Regions from separate parts of the Homo sapiens genome. Here region 2 is linked to region 1. The links come from fine-mapping of genetic effects on gene expression. A gene starts in region 1. The other region holds a variant in brackets. All regions are shown on one strand. Distances are between the middles of the regions. Region 1 holds the start of C8orf58 (chromosome 8 open reading frame 58). Region 2 overlaps BIN3 (bridging integrator 3).

Region 1 (8,317 bases):
CCCCTCTGGCTCTTGTTCTTTGGTGTGGCAGCCATCTCTCCTCCCAGGGGTCCTGAGGGTTTCAGCACCAGGGTTCTCTGCAGCCACACAATCAGCCCGGCTCGGGAGCAAACTCCCCTGGAAGAACGGAGTTATGAGTTGGTCAGCAGAGGAGGCTGGGGACAGGCAGTTTTTGGTCTTTTACCTCTGATCTTGTCCCCAACCTAAGCCAGCTAGCTGCGTGCTCCCACTCCCTCTGCCGCACGCCGCCCGTCTATGTTCCCGGACTTTGTCCAGTGCAGTGCCCTCTTCCCTTCCTGCACTGAGGAGATTAACTGAAGTGACAGATTAGAGTTAGAAGTGGCCCAAAGGAGCATCTGGTACAACCCCCTTTGGTTAGAGAAGGGAAAGTGACTTTTCCAAAGCTGCACAGCTAGACAGTCATAATGGCTAAGCTCTGGGGGTGCTTTTGATGTGCTAGGGATACTTCCAATGCTTTAACTCACTTAATCCTCACAACCCGAGATAGGTACTGTTACCATCCTCTCTGCAGACGAGGAAACCGAGGACCAGGAGGTTCAGTAAATGGTCCAAGTACTCCTAGCTAGTAAGGAATGGATCTACAGCCTGCCTCCCAGGTTTCTGGCTTGTGGGGGGCAGAGTTTGTCCCTCTGTCATCAGAGGCAGCCTTCCAGGCACAGCTCTGGTCACCTCTGGTCACAACTGGAGGTCACCACAGCCCTCCCCAGCGCTCTGTAGGCTCTCAGCTTTGTGCTTCCTCCCACGGGTACTAGCTCCAGCTGAGCTTGCAGGAAACCCACTTCCTGAAGCCAGGACTTCCCCATGGGAAGTGCAGGGGCCACTGGGCAGCCTGAGGGCTGACCCTGCTCAGGACACTGTCTGTCTCAGGAACTCATGGCAGTGGTTTACCTTGTCAGGAGTGCATGGACGGGCTGCCCCTCCCATTCCTTCAAGCATCACTCAGAGAGCCCTGGCCTGGCTCTAGGCTTGGGACTGCGGCTGCCACAGGAAGGGGGCATCCCCCTACTTTGGGTGTTGGGTCAGATCCTGCCCCCGTGCCCGCCAGGGCTCAGGTTCCTCTGAGCTGGTCCTGGGCCAGGACGCATCTGCATGGCGGTGGTGGGGAGGAGGGGTGCGCCATGGCCTGGAGGGGAGTGTGTGTTGGGGTGTGTGTGTGGAGGTTCTTTTGAGTCACACACAAAGCATTGTGCTGAGACACTGCATTCCTGCTGGCTGGGCTTCCTGTTTCCAGATGCATTCCTGTCCCAGAGTCACCACAGAGACTGTTTGGAATCCCGCCCCACATTCTCCAAATTCAGGGCGCGATCTGGCAAAGGCTCCCTCCCCCACCCTCTTACTTTGGAGGGAGTCTGGGCTCCCTCCTACCCAGGGAGGGCTGGCAGGGCTCTGGCACGGCCGGGGTGTGATTCCACACATCTTCTTGGTCTTGCATAAGGCAGTTCCTGGAGACCCAGCACTCTGGTTCTCTCTCTGCCTGTGAGAAGCGGAATGGGTACTGTCTAGGAGGACTGGGCAGGGTGGGGGCAACCCAGAGGACCCATGGCTAGCAGGGAAGGGCCTGGGCTTGAATGTGACTCTGTTGAGACATGGCCAGCAATTCTGGCACTTGGCTGTCATTCGGCTGGCCTGCGCAGAGATTGGCTGTGGGCCTCAGTTTCCCCATTTTATAAAGTTTTAAAATCTGATAGTTTGTGGCTCTCTGATAAAGGCTCCTGCAGTGGGTGTTTGGGGACTGGTTCCAGAAAGGAGCAAAGGGAAGGGGATGCACAGACTGTCTTACCCCTCCCGGTAAACAGCCACTTCCTTCCAGTGGCTCTGGCTCCAGCCTCTCCCCTCCCCTAGAGGTCCAGGTGCTAGTCTGCACGTCCTCCAGCTCCCTTATCTGCCTCCGGGGGATTTGGGTCCTGCTGGGATTTTTCCAGCCCTGCCCCCTCCCTCTGGAGGAGGTGCCTTCTTTAGAGGACACCAGCCCCAGTCTGGTCACCAGGCTCTCTCTCATCTTCAGTAGCTTCTTGGGCTCCTTTTAGGTTGGGGACTGAGGGGTGGAATCCCACGGGCCAAAGGCAGGGTGAGGTGGGAACAGGGGGACATTTACACTTTGGCCCAGTCTCCAGGCGGCTCCCCGCTGGCTCGCATCTTTCCAGACCTTGAGACCTACCCAGTCCCCAGCTTTAGGGAGCCCGGGATGAGAAAGAGGCAGGGGACCGGGAGGGGGTTCAGATCTAGCTGAGGACACACGCGCGTTCTGCAGTTGTAAAAGATTTCCCGGTGGGCAGGATCGTTTCCCCTCCCATCGCCCAGGTTTCCGAGCGGCCAAGAGACTGGCCCCCAAGCCACACTGCTAGGGAGCGCCGGGTGCCCGCGTCCTGGTCAGCGCTCTTCCCACCGCCAGCACGTGGGGCTCCCATTTCCTTCCTGGCTCTTGTCCGGTCCTCCAGCCAGCCCCGGCTCTAAGTCCGCGGCAGGAAGACGGACGCTGCGTGTGAACCCGCGGGGCCGGGCGGACCGGCGCCCCGAGCCAGACGGCGTCCCCAGGCGGGGGCCGGGTCCTCGCAGAACAGCTGATCGGGACCCTTATTTTGGCCACAGCCACAGTTGGGGGCGCCACCCAGTCCGTGCCTTCGACCTCGTTCTTGGCGACCCGGCCACCTGCGCCCCCCACCTGGCACCCTTGCCTTCCCTCCTCTCGCCCCTCCCCTCCCTCCTCTCGCCCCTCCCCTCTCCTCTCCCCTCCCCTCCCTCTCCTCTCCCCTCCCCTCCCTCTCCTCTCCCCTTTCCCTCTCCCCTCTCCTCTCCTCCCCTCTCCCCTCTCCTTTCCTCCCCTCTCCCCTCTCCCCTCCCTCTCCTCTGCCCACCCTCTCCTCGCCCCTCCCCTCTCCCCTCCCTCTCCCCTCCCCACCCTCTCCTCTCCCCTCCCCTCGCCCTCCTCTTCCTCGCCCCTCCCCTCCCTCTCCTCGCCCCTCCCCTCCCTCTCCTTTCCCCTCCCTCGCCTCGTTCCTCTCATCCCTCGTCTTGCCCCGCCCCTTTCTCCTCGCCCCCTTCTCCTCGCCCCTCCCCCTTCCCCTCGCCCCTCCCCTCCTCTCGCCGCTCCCCTACCTTGCCTCGCCCCTCCCCTCCCTCGTCTCGCCCCTCCCCTCTCTCCTCGCCCCTCCCTTCCTCGTCTCGCTCTTCCTCTCTCCTCCCCCTAGGCCACGCCCCCCACCGCCCCGCCCCCCGCCCCCCCAGCCCCGCTCCCCGCCCCCCCAGCCCCGCTGGGAGTGTCTGGGGGCCGCGCCCAGCTGGGTCGGGACGCGCTCCCTGAGCTGCCCGAGCTCCGCGGGGACTCGGGCCGGGATCCTCGGGCGGCTGCATTGGCCGGGGCCGGGGCCGGGAGCGGGCCATGATGGGCCGGCGGCGCGCCTTCGCCGTGGACGGCCGGGGTGAGTCACCCACCCCCAGGCTGGCCGGGCTCCCCCCTGCCCCGGAGCCGCTTCCCGCCCCCAAGCCGGGCACCCTCTCTCAGTTTCTTGCCCAGCCCCGCGCACCCCGCGGGCGGAGCCCGCGCCGCTGCGCCTCCCTCGCCGCCTCCCTGGAGGGGCGGTCATCAGGGGACGCCATGCAGGCTGGAACCCCTTTGGGCCCAGGCGTTAAACCAGCCACCGCCTCCGCCCCACTTCCTCCGGCTCCGCTTCCCTCGCCTTCCCGCTCCTTCTGAGGATGTGGGAATCCGCCCGCGCCCCAGCCCCCTCCGTGGCTGCGGACCCCTCTCCCACCCAGTGACCTCCTGGCCCACTTCCTTGCCCAGAGGGGCCTGGGTTGGCATTCGGCTCCCGCGTGCCCCGCAGCTCGTCCCCGCCCCCCTAGCCTGTTTCCCGTACCGTTCATTCCGCCAGGACGCCCCGTCGCCAGAGGGCCTGGCGGAGGTGACAGTGAGGGGGTGCTAATGCTGCCCCTTCGTCCCTTTCTTTCACTTCAGTTCTTTCATTTTAAACTTTTCATAAAATCTTCACTATTGCTCACTTACAACAAAAGCCCAAATCGGTTATAGCGGTGATTTTTATCACTCTCCCGGTGAGCTGCAGGAGAGACTTCACCTGGCATCCTGATGCCGCAGGGGCCCCCAGAGAGCAGGTTGGATCCCAGGCTTTCCTCTCTGTACCCTCTCCCCTCTCCCTGAAGCTGGATACAGTCCTACTCCCGCTTGGGGAGCAGCGGAAGAGCCTGTGGCTCCCTACTTCTGACTCGGGAGATCGTGGGCTGATCCTAGGTGGGAAGCGCAGGCGCAGGCCGTCTAAGGGATTGATGGATGTGGCCTGCCAGGGCTTTGCCTACCACACAGCTCAGAGCACGGGTTCCCTGTCGCTAACAACCGTTGCGAAGGGAATCCCATCCACACATCTCCCAGACAGCTGGGGCCATATCCGGGCTGCCCGTGGCTGTCCAGTGACCGCCCTTCCTCACTGCTCCGGGACACTTCTCCCTGGGGCAGTGCTGCCAGCCTTCAGGAATGCTGGGGGTGTTGGGGGTGGCCTGCCCAGCCTGACGCTGACTCTCCATGCAGATGGGGCTGGCGAGGGCCTGGCACGGGGCTGCATAGTGCCTGGAGTCACCAGCACCTACAGACGGATCCCCGACGCTGCCCACGGGTGCTCATCCTGGGAGAGAGGTGACAAGTTCAGAGGTGTCGGCAGGGAGGCACTCTTTCTCAAACTGGCCTCCCGGGACTCAGGAGTGGAGATGGCAGTTGGGGACAGCCCCCTGGCCGCCTTACCGGGCCTTTCTCAGGACTCCCTGGACTTTGAATCCTCAGGGAGTTCTGAGCCCCCCGCCCAGGTAGGCCGACTCCTGGCCAGCCAGAAGCTGGGGGAGGTGTTGGAGCGGTCCCGCCGGCTCCCAACAGCTCCCACCAGCTTGTCAGGACAACACCGCTCCCTGCGGCTGGCAAGCAAGCCTGAGCGTGAAGTGCCCCTTGGAGCAGGGCAACAGGAGTCCATGGAGGCAGACACAGACCTAGAGGCAGGCCTGGAAGAAGAGGCGGTGAGTGCTCACTCTCAGGCTGGGTTTAAGAGTGGGATGGACAGCCTAGCTCCTCTGGTTCTCCCTGGAGCTCTCTCTGGGTGGGGCACTCCCTGCCCCTAATTGATGGGTTGTGTCATAGGTTCTTTCTGCACCCCAGTTCCATTTGTGCACGGCCACCTCTGCAGAGGAGGTGGGCAGCTACGGGGGCCCTTCCTGGCACTATGCCCCGCTGGGCAGTGGGGAAGCCGGCTGCGTGTGTTCCTCCTCGGGGCCCACTCTGCTCCCATCTGCTGGCTGAGCCCAGCCTGGCTGCTTAGGGTAGGGCAGGAGCCCTACTGGCTGAAATCTCCCCTATCTCACAATGTCCCACAGGTGGGGGGCCTGGGGCCTGGAGCCTGGGCCTGCCTCCCCGGGCAGGGTCTTCGCTATCTGGAACACCTGTGCCTGGTGCTGGAGCAGATGGCAAGGCTCCAGCAGCTCTACCTGCAGCTGCGGATCCAGAGGCCCCCAGGGGTGAGTGAGATTCGAGTGGGGGAGGGAGAGGACAGATGGGACCCTGGGAACCATGGCTGCCCTCAGAGCAGCTTCAGCCCTCTAGCCAGGCCCTGATCACCTGTCTCTCCTGTGCATAGGATCCCGGCGAGGAGGAGTCGACCCGAGCCCCTTTACCGTCCCCGTTACACACCCCAGGCAATCGGGGGCAGGGGCCATGGGAGCTGCTAAGCCAGACAGAGCACACAGGTGAGGGGCCATCGTGTCTCCCTTTGTCCTGCCTGCCTGGGGTCCCACCAGCAGGTCCTCTGAGCCGAAGCTTGATGGGGTGTCTTCTGGCCCTGGCCAACCTGACTGTCTTTCTGAAGGAGCAAAGGCTGCTTCACCCCCAAAGGTGGAGGTGCCCAGTGCCAACCCTCCCAGGCTGCCAGAAACCCCAGTGGAGCCAACGTACCACTTGCCATCCTCCCAGGGACACAAGGTAGGGGACAGGTATATGTGGGGCAGGTGGTGGGCTGGGGTGGGGGGAGGGGAGGTGGGGGATGCATGGGCACCCTGGGGGCCAGCAACTCTGGGGAAATGACAGGATTGATTCCTGTTTGGAGCAGGCGACTTGTCCTGGCTGTGGCGACAGCTGTCTCTGGGAGCTTGGTCGGGGGTCTGAGTGTGGGGAGGGCTCTGGGTGACCCCTCATCCTCTGCTCAGCGGGATATCTCCCACTGGGACAAGGTCAAGGTCCTGCTCAACCGGATCTGCCGGAGAAGCCACCACCACCCTGAGCCCCCTGCCCCTCCTGATGGCTCTGACCCCAGGTGAGCCCCGTGCCCAGCCCAGGTTAGGGCACGGAGAGGAGACTGATAAGCCAGGATGCTGAGATTGTCATGCCAGTTGTCATTATTGTCCCCGCAAAACTTGAGAGGCAGTCTGGGAGGGGCTGCTAGAAGAAACAGTAGTTAAAACACCCCATTTACAGATAAGGAGGCAGGGTTCTGGGTGGGGTTGGGGGTAGTTGCTTTTCCAAAGCCGCACGGTGAGTCAGTGACAGCTAGGACCAGAATGTGGGAAATCTGCCTACCCTAGCTCAGCAACCCCTCACCCTCAATGCTGACATTTAGGCCACCTTCCAGGTTCGTGGGGAGAGCAAGGTGGAGCACAAAGGATTTCACAGTGGGTGAAGGCCATCATGCTTCGGGGCTTGTATTGAATCGTTCTCCAGGAGGAAGAAATACCAAGTCATTTAACAGCCCCGGGCTGCGCCCACACCCAGCTACCCACCAGCAGATAAACCACGTTCTCTCAACTCTAGGGCCATTGTTAGTTTTATTTCCCCCTTCTAGCCTAATGTCTTCTTTTCATTCCACAGGATCGAGTCCAGGGACCTCCCTGAAAGGCCTCAGTGCCGCCCCCACCGGAAGACCTTTATGCCATCATTAGTGGTTAAGAAGCAACGAGCAAAAAACCTTTCTGTAGGCTGAGACCTCTCGGTGCACCTGGTGACCCTGGGTGGAGGGGACTTGCTGTGAAGTCTTCCTCGCCCTCTGCCCTCTTGCTGCTTCTCCACATTGCCAGGAAAAGCTGCTGACGCCTGCCCTCCTCTCTTGAGTCGAGGGCTGAATCTTTCTCCTCTAAGCAGTCTGGTCAGGAACCTTGGTTTCTTGAGAGGCCCCCAAGATGCCGCAGCTCCAGGGCTCTTCCTCCTCACCAGAAATCCCTGGGCTTCCACAATGTGAACTCACTCATTGTCAGGTGTCCGTGGAGTGTTTTTGGCATGGTGACCTGTCTGGGCCCAGCATGTTGCAGATGTGTATTTATGCGCAATGGTATGCATATCTCTGTGTGACTGTCAGTGTTGCAAGCTGGCTGGATCCAACCATCTCTTCTGAAATAATGCATCCAAAGGGTTGATATTCTGGGGGAGGTCACTGCAGAAGGATGGAACTGACCTTTATTCCCCAGTGGGCAGTTACTGAGCTTTCCTCCTCAGAGCCATGCTGGCAGCCCTGGGACAGAGAACGGTGTGGCTTTGGCTGCCTCTGCATGGAATCTTGCCCCGGACTCCTGAAGACTGCACAAGGAATGAGGAAGATCAGGGACAACCTGGGAACTGAATAACTTTCAAAGCCAGTGCTCAGCTTCTCTGCTCCGTACTAGCGTTTACAGGTCTTAATTCAAACCAGATGCCTGTACTAGTTTTTAGACCCCAAGTCAACCTTTCTGAGCCACAGCTTCCCGCTGGGAATAATGATGCCTGCCCTATCTACCTCACAGACTTGTTATGAGGATAAAGTGAGATTAAACTGCCTCAAAGTGCTTTGTAAACCTCAGGTGAATAGGAAAGGGGAAAGTAAGGCTGGAGTGATGATGGGGAGGTCGGAGGATAAGGGGGGGCTGGGATTGCTAATGGGGACTAAAATGGCCAGTCTCCTGGCAAGATTTTGAGCAGGTCATTTCATTGAGGCCTCTTAGATTTCATATTTGAGAATTAGGGCACTGATTCCTGACTGGCTAGGCATGGTGGTCACTGGCTTGAGTCAGACCAGGAATGTCTCTTAGAAATGGTCACTGATAGGCATCCTTCTCCTCCAGTCAGGAGGGGCTGGTTTCCTTATCTGTTGCAGTCTCGACTGCCAGAGGGAGGCGAGCGTGGTAGGCAGTCGGGGGTCCCTTGTGTTTGGGGGGCCCAGCTCCCGCTTCCTTTGAGCCCGGAACCAATGATCCGAAGCCTTCTTTCCTGATGGGATTCTTTAGCGAGGACACTACCGAGGCGCGACTTCCTGACGCGCATCCGATCCGGGAAGGCGCACTT
Region 2 (8,317 bases), 33 kb after region 1:
GCGGTCAAATGACCACCAGAACAGCGGCGGTTGCTGGGTGGGGTGGGAAGGGGGTGGTGGCAGGGGTACCCTGAGCTCGCCTGGGCCATGTGGGTACTCTGGAGCCCCCAGGAGCATGGACGCTTAGGCCACAGGTCACAGAGCTGACGTCCCCACTGAGTTTCCCGTCAGGCCCCATGGGAATCTGGGGACACGCAGCTAGAAATCCTCTTCAGTCCCCAAGTGGCTGCTGACCTGCCTCTCCCATAAGTGCCCCGAGGCCCCCAGGTGACATTTACTCACTTTTTTAAGGGCTCGATCACAGTCTTCTGGATCTGGTTCACCTGTCAAAGAAAAACCCAAAGACATTAAAACTGGTGGGGAGGGGAGGGCGACACGCAAGGCAGGGCCCCTAACTACCAAAGGGCTAGGAAGTCTAAAGGGCCACAGGGTGCTGTCCTTGTCCTGGGCCTGGCTTTGCTCAGGGTGGAGGCCGGGTGGCTGGCCACAGAAGCCTCAGGGGCTGGGGTGAACAGGACTGCCGCCGGCAACCCTCACAGTAAGTAACATGAGCTCGTGGAGCCTCAGGAGGCAGGTAGAGCCAAGGCAGAACAGTCTGGAAAGAGCCCTGTGGGCTTGCAGCACCTTGCAGCACACGAGGCCAGAGGGCTTAGAGCCCTGAGAGCAGAGGGAGCCCACTCGGGCCTCCCCGCACAGTCCACCCAGAGGCCCAGACCGGGCAGAAGTCATGCTTGCCCACCCCACACCAAGACCTAGTCACCTTTTCCTGATTGAAGGCATCCATCCGCTTCATGGCCGTGTCCAGGGCCGTCACCATGTTCAGAAGGTCCTGGTCTTGCTCACAGAGGGGATTGGAGAGTAAGTCCAAGGATATCTTCACGGCAGATTTTGACATGGCTGTGGGAAGCCAAAGCTCGGTGAACCTTCTATGAAGGGGCAGGTTTCACGGCCTTCTCTCCAGGACCCCGTCCTCCTATGCCAGGGGCCTGCACCCTGAAGACCTCTTCCCACAGCCACGGCCGTCAAGAACGGCGAAGTACCACACAACCACAAGCTGCTGATCCCCATGGTTTAATGTTCATTCCTGACCCTAACACTGCTCCAGACAATTCTTTTGAGCCGCTTTACCTGTTCTCCAAACCCTGGGTTAGAAAAGGACCATCTGGGTGGGAGGCTATAAAATATGTTTCTGGCTCCAAAGATTCTAATTCAGTAAACCCGGTACCCAAGAATATGCATTTAAAACCGCTCTCCAAGTGGTTTGGACGTGATGCTTGGTTTGGGACTCCTGGATGGACAAGAATAACAGTACTCCAGTTTACACATGCTTTTACTACAAAAGGCCCAACAGTAAATATTTCAGGCTTCGTGGGCCATACAATTTCTGTTGCAACTTCTCAACTCTGCCTTGTGCTGTGAAAACTGCCAGCGACAACACATAAAAAAAGGGATGTGGCTGTTTCAATAAAACTTTATTGACAAAACTAGGTCAGATTAGGCCAGCAGCTGCACCCTGCCAACCCCTGGTTTCCTCAATATCCAGTAGGAAGAGATACGCTGGAAAATGTGTTTTCCCCCAAGACTCGCCCAGACACACACTGCAGCTGGTACAGGCGGGACTGGGACAGCAGGGCCCTCCTCCCGGGTCTGTTCCTGCTCCCCCAGAATTTTGTTTGTAAATAATGGAAACCTGGGGACTTGTACGGGACAAAGAGCTCCAAAGCTGCCAGCAGGTCCCCATCTTAGGGTTCTGCCAAGGTTCCCATGCACTCTCATTTAGGGCTCAAACAACCCAGGGGATGTCTAGCGGAAATGTAGTTTGGTTCCATTTTAGCGAGGAGGCAGATTAGGCGCAAAAGGGTTTGTAATGCCTCCAAGGTCAAACGGCTGAGTGCGCCAGCCGGGCCCTGACCCTTGACCCTGGGCAGCTGCTTCCCTGTTCACTGCTCTCCTTCTGATCTGGCCTAGAGGAAGCCAGTGGACAGGTCCATCAGGCTCTGTCCATCAGGCATCCACTGACGTTTTTCAAGGCACCCTGGTACCGGATCCCCATGAATGTGCCGCCCACCCCTCTGTGCTCCTCCCTCCTGTGTTGACATTCCCTGCTGGGCAGATGGGAAGCCTGGGAGTCACAGGCGGCTCAGAGGCGGGCTGGAGACCTGCTGGCAGCTTTGGAGCTCTTGGTCCTGAACATGTTTTCAGGCCTCCATTATTTCTAGATTCTAGAAACAAAATTCTGGAGGGGCAGGAAGCGGCCCTGGAGAAGGGTCATGCTGGCCTGATGCCGTCTGTACCAGTGTCAGAGTGCATCTGGGGCAGGTCTCAGGAGAGAAGACACATTGTGAATGCATTTCTTACCATATGCATGTTACTGAATTTAAGATGCTCTTCATTATAAGTCACTTATTGTATGAACTACTAAGGGAGAAAAAATTGTTGTCAATCAAACCAGGCTACACTTTCAGTACTTTGATTTCAGAGACATTAACTGTGGAAAAAGTGTCTTAGGACCCATGACATAAGGTCTGCCTCCCAGTTAATCACAGATGTGGCCTTGCCTAGCACTCCATGGCATGAACCTGAACCCTGACCCTGCGCTCCCCGGGGAAGGGTCTGCCTCCGCCAGGCCCCTTCACCAGTCAGCAAAGCAGCGCTGAGCGGACTAGCCAGCCCGGAGCACCCTCCTGGGGTTTTTCTGGAATCTGGGAGAGTGCTACAGTCAACCAGCAAAAGGGCAAACTGTGGGAGAAGGCTGGAAATGTAAACTTTCCAGAAATGTTGAAGCAACGGAGGGAAAAACACCTCTTAAATTCTGTGGAGTGACTCTGTAGATTTAGGAACAAACGTTACGTATAACTTGATTTGATTATGAAATGATCACATACAGCATAATAAAAAGATAATAAAATTCTGGATAAAGCTGGAAATGTTTCTGAAAAACATCTTCTGCTATTTCTTAAAAAAATATCTGAGGAAAACAACCCAAAAAGCCAGAGGAGCGAGGACACGGTCTTTCCACTTTCCTTTTTTTTTTTTTTTTCAGACGGAGTTTCGCTCTTGTCACCCAGGCTGGATGGAGTGCAATGGCATCATCTCGGCTCACTGCATCCTCCGCCTCCTGGCTTCAAGTGATTCTCCTGCCTCAGCCTCTCAAGTAGCTGGGATTACAGGTGCCTGCCATCACACCCACCTAATTTTTGTATTTTTAGTAGAGACGGGGTTTCACCATGTTGGCCAGGCTGGTCTCGAACTCCTGACCTCAGGTGATCTACCTGCCTTTGCCTGCCAAAGTGCTGGGATTACAGGTGTGAGCCACTGCGCCCAGCCCAGCTGCATTTTCCCCTTTCTTTCCTAAAGCTCTTGCATTGTCAGGAAGTCAAGGAACTGAGTGGGCTCAGTGGCCGGCCCTGGGCAGAACTGGGTCTGGAATCCCCGCCCAGTGATGCCCCCGCTTCATGTGAGCAGAGCAGAGCTGGGGTAGATGACACCAAGAACACCATGGTCTTGGCTGGGCGTAGTGGCTCATGCCTGTAATCCCTGTGCTTTGGGAAGCTGAAGCAGGAGGATCCCTTGAGCCCAGGAGTTCGAGACCAGCCTGGATGACACAGTGTGACTCTGTTCCCCCTCAACAAAAATAAACAGCAGGTCTCCATGCCCCTCTGGACCTGTGGTCCCTGCCCCAGCCCATACCCCTCATTGTTCCCTGCAGGGACTGGGAGAGGGGCACAGTCAGCCTGGCCCACACCAGGAGGCTGGTGATCTTTGAACCTTAGAGAAAGTGAGGGTCTTGGACCCCACCCGGGTCTCTGGAGTCCTGATGCGGCCTCTGGAATGTAAGATTCAAAGATTCACCAGAGCACTCTGAAAGTAGTATGAGTTTCTGAAAGAAAGGTCATCTTTTTTAGAATAACTGGGGATTTTCCACCTTGCTGGGGGAGCGCAGGAGATTCCACGCTCAGGAAAAGCATCCCTCCATTCCCCTCAACTGTCCAGATCAGTGGAGCTCACAGTGTGGGCCTCAGCATCACCTGGGAACTCCAGGGACACACATTTTCAGGTCTCGCCCAGCTCATGAGTTAGTTGGAGGCTGGAGGTGGGGCCCAGCGGCCCACGGCACAGCAAGCCCGCCTACAACACTGATGCCCCGTACATGAGACTGATGTGGCTGTCAGGCTCGCCTTGGCCCCATGACCACCACCACCGCTCTTCAGAGGCACTGTCTCTGCCCACATCCATTCCTGACTGAGGACAGTAGTGTTAGGCTTCTGCAGTTACCCATTCAACTCTGGTTTCTCTGCTGGGAAACTAAGCTTTCCACAGCCATGGACGGTGCGTCACGGACCCCTGATGCCCTCCTTGGTTCCGTAGCAAGCCACTGTGAACACAGCACACCCTGGCTTCGTTTATGCTCTGACAATGCAGCTGTCTGCAGAAGCAGGAAGGAAAGGAAGCAATGGCTCACAGCAGCTCCCGAACTGGAAAGGCAGTGGGGACCGATCAAGAAAAATGCGACCCAAGTAACTCAGACCTGAAATAACTACAAAACAAACAACTGCAGACAAACTCCCAAATCCAGTCCTTGGCTTGTGACACACATAGTTTGGCAACGCTAGAGGCCAGGAGCAAGGTGCATGTTCAGACCAGCCCACGGCCCAGGAATTAGCACTGGCATGAAAATTCATGGC[A/G]CAGACCAAGACGGCCACAGTCCCTGCACAGGCAGTCAGCGCTCACCCGGGCATGGTGGTGGTGACGGCGGCTCCCAGGGAAGGAACGCTTTCCTTTTGTGATCAGTGCTTTGTAGGAAAGGTGTGTTTACACATCAGTAACTGGCTGAGGCTTAGGAGCTGGCATAAAATGGGAACAAATTCAAATCACTGCCTCTATTGGGACATTTCAAGGGTTTTCCTCGTAACTGCAGTACCAAGTAGGAGCACACTGGTCCTCAAGTCCCACCCGTAGGTGCCCACTGCCCTGTGGCCCTTTGAATGGTGTCAGGAGACAGTGAGGCCGCCCCATTTGCACTAGGCTCACAGACAGCCAAGCAAAGAGTGGATGGGCAACGGTTCCGGAGTGGGGGCTGTTTCGGTCACCTTCTAGTTTGGTGGCGGGCACGGGGGTGGGCAAAGGAATGAGTGGGGCATGGGGAGGCTTCGCTGTGGAGACAAGGCCCTGGACTTGGAGAAGAGGAGCTGAACTCTTCCTCCTTTATCAAATGGACATGCCCATTTATAAAATGGGTGTGTCATGTGCCCTGCCAATCTCAAGGTCAGAAAAGCTCAGGGAGGTGAAATTTCTTCACAGCCATAACATGGCATTATTCAGCAGCTGGAGTGGCCGAGGGGACTGAAGATGGCTTCTCCACCCTCCTGCTGCCTCTCCTGCATCTCTGGTCAGCGTGCACCACCTTAGGGCCTCCGCGCTTGCTGTCCACTGTGTTTCAGGCCCTCTTCCCTTGGCTCTACCTGTGTGGGTTATTCATTCCTTCAGGACTCTGCCCAGGGATCACGTCCCCACGAAGGCCTCCCTTGACCCTGTCACTCTCCACCTCCTTATTTTTATTGACCTTGCACGCCACGACGTGTCATTATATACCGATCCGCTTGTGGACCTCTTGCAGGTCTTCCTCCTAGAACGTAAGCTCCCATCTTGTCTTGCTGTTGAGTCTCTAGTGCTGAGAGTGCCTGGTGCACGTGGGTTCTCGGTCAGCATCTGCTGAGTGAGAGGAAGTGGGCAGTCCTGGCCATACCCAAGTCTCTTTCAGGTCCTCGTCCCAGTGTGGTATATAGACACGGCTTCCCCACTGGACCCAGGGAAGGAGCTGCAGGAGTCCACCCAGTCAGGGAGGCTTGCTGCCGACCATGACGACGGTGATGACAGGAGCGGACACCCCGAGAGCTGACCCGTGCCAGGCCCTGTTCTCAGTGCTTTACGTTGCTCATCCAACTTCATCTTCAGCAACAGCCTGTGCCACTCGGATTGGCGTTACCTGTGCTTCTCGGGTGACGGAACTGAGGTAGAGCTAAGTCAGCTGTCCAGAGCTGCGCAGGGAGTGCTGAAGCTATTGATCAACCTTTGGTCAAGTGCTTGCTGCTCCGGGGTGGGAAAGTCAAGGCCTTGGAGAAAGAACCTCAAGGAATGGTCTCCATCTCTCCCGGCTGCTCGTCGCCTCCTTCCTGGGACATGGCCTGCAGCAAGGGCTCTGGATGCTCCCTTATTCCCGACCTGCTTGTGTCTCTAGGCTCCCAGGCCTGGTTCCTCCTTGTTTCAAACAAGAGCTCTCCAGCCAAGAAACCTCCCCAAGGGCCCTGGCTGTTTCCCAGCACCTGCTGGCCCCCACTTCCCAAGGACCTCCCGGTGCCCTTTGTCATCATAGAATTATCTGGGGTATTTCTGGCCTTACACTTTAACCCAACCTCCTGTTTAAACACATGACAGCTTCCATTCTTGTTGCCACTGGAGCGCCTGTCCCAGCAGGCCACGGAGTCTCGTTTCTGCGGGAAGGAATGTGCTTCCCTTTCCCTCTGGACAGCCTGAGCCGGTGGCCAGGATTCTGAGGCAATGGAGGCATCTGCTACCAGAAGCTTCCACCAGCTGCTGTACTGTCCTGACTGGAGTCCCAGGAGAGCCTTGCCCCAGCACCCACATCCAGAGTGGGGCAGTGCGAGCTCTGTGCAAAGTGGGATGTGACTGGTGAGGAGTGACTGCCCTGAGGCTGCTTCTCAGGACACTGGGTACACGTCCTCTGAGCGCAGCAACTTCAGAGCCCTTGGGGGGCTGAGAGAGGAGGGTGCCCACCTCTGCCCCACCTGCTCAAGCGAGTGGTGCGGGTGGAAAGTCACCTACCCAGGTCTGCGTCGGTGCTCTTCTTCATGTCTTTCTGCAGCCTCCGGGTCTGCTCTTCCAGCCTGCAAGGCAGGGGACGGGCTGCTTGGGGTCCCCTTCCTTCCCCCTACCTGAGCGAAGCCCAGGTGCTCTGGAGGGCCTGCCAAGGAGGAGGAGAAAGGGATCTTCTCCACGGGGACTTTTCCCGCTGACTGAAGTGCCACTACACCCAAAGGCTATGAGTGAATGACTCTCACATGGCCATTGCCAGGGAACAGTTCCAGCAGCCTGGTGACCTGAGCTGCCCTCAGCTTCCAGGGTGCTCACGGGGCAGGGCACGGGGCAGACAGGTGAGACCTGGCAGGGGGCCCTTGTCCCTCCCTGCCTCCCACCTCATCTTTCTGGGGTTGACACTCACTGCTGAAGTTTTCCATACTCCCTTTCAAAGTCTCTCTCCACCTGAAACGAGAGAGATAACTCAATTATCGGAGAAATGACAACACGGTGGAAAAAACCTCCCAGCCTCCTGAAACTCTCTCCACACCCTGCCCCAGTCCGCAGAAAACAACATGGTCCAGTTCACACAAGCACCGACAGATCGCTCCTGACACGGTATTTCTGAGATCCCAAGTTAATTAAGTGTTTGAATTACGGAGGAAGGCTCCCCTCCCAGAGGGTCCAGCCAGGCAGGTGCCAGCGGACTGTGGCTCTGCTCTTCCCAGCTGGGAGCAAGGCACTCGCTGCATGCCCTCCTCACCCCAGGCTGGAGGCAGTCAGGGTGCTCAGAACGTGACTGGACCCCATCCAGGAAGGCAGCAGAGTGCAGAGGAGAGGGCGGGTCTGGAATTGGGGGTCTGTCTCTGCCTTTTCCTAGTTTCCAGGTCCATGCAGGGCACCTCCCCTCCTACGCGGCCCTCCACTCAGGGCCACCTGCCCCTGCTGGGCTCAGGGTGGGTCAGGAACAATCGTGCACCTGTGCTTTGTGATTGGGATGCATCAAACACAGACACTGTGACTACTGACTCAGGTCAGGCTCTCTCCATTCCCGACCGGGTATCAACTCTCTTGAGAGCCAGCAACACTGAAACCAAATGGGTGAGTCCTGAACCCGGGGCTGCACTTGTTGCGGAAGATGAAGTTAAGAAGTCTAGTACTTTCTTCTGGTGCCTTGACTTCACTATCTGTAAAACGGAGCCTCATGATTGGTCTCTTATGGGCATGCAATGGGAAGTAAATGACATCGAGAGGCAAAGGAGACTAAGCTAGAGGCCTGCCCTCCCTGGCCAGAGCTGCAGCCGTCAGGTGCCAGCTTCGGGCTTCGTGCTCTGAGAAGTCAAAACCGCTAACTCACATTCACAGAGCCCTCACTGTGTGCTTTACAAGAATGCAGTTCTCTACACTCATCTCCAAGGCAGGTCACCGGGAACCAGGTTACGTACCCTGGCCAAGGTCACCCCATTGGTGAGGGGTAGAGTTGAGCACAGTGGGAATGGAA

The links.
Region 2: its variant is fine-mapped to the expression of C8orf58 in blood mononuclear cells (TOPMed, PIP 0.98).

Annotation. Positions count from the first base shown.
Region 1 is chr8:22,596,321-22,604,637 of GRCh38, forward strand. It overlaps C8orf58 (chromosome 8 open reading frame 58), which reads left to right and starts at 3,279. Exons shown (of 7, transcript NM_001013842.3): 1 at 3,279-3,440; 2 at 4,562-5,037; 3 at 5,392-5,532; 4 at 5,652-5,760; 5 at 5,880-5,992; 6 at 6,217-6,323; 7 at 6,875-7,822. The coding sequence starts at 3,401. The coding sequence ends at 6,986. It overlaps LOC107986876 (a long non-coding RNA gene), which reads right to left. Exons shown (of 1, transcript NR_160769.1): 1 at 6,813-8,317. It also overlaps a transcript of PDLIM2 not described here. RefSeq lists enhancers at 782-1,529, 1,530-2,277, 4,966-5,843, 8,155-8,264, 8,271-8,317 and silencers at 2,664-2,723, 3,089-3,188, 3,219-3,678.
Region 2 is chr8:22,629,682-22,637,998 of GRCh38, forward strand. BIN3 (bridging integrator 3) reads right to left here. Exons shown (of 9, transcript NM_018688.6): 3 at 7,241-7,281; 4 at 6,844-6,905; 5 at 761-897; 6 at 283-323. Among named protein-coding and RNA genes, the nearest start is that of BIN3-IT1, 8.4 kb to the right of the region's middle. RefSeq lists enhancers at 1,452-1,986, 1,987-2,521. The variant A/G (reference allele first, on the strand shown) is at 4,686.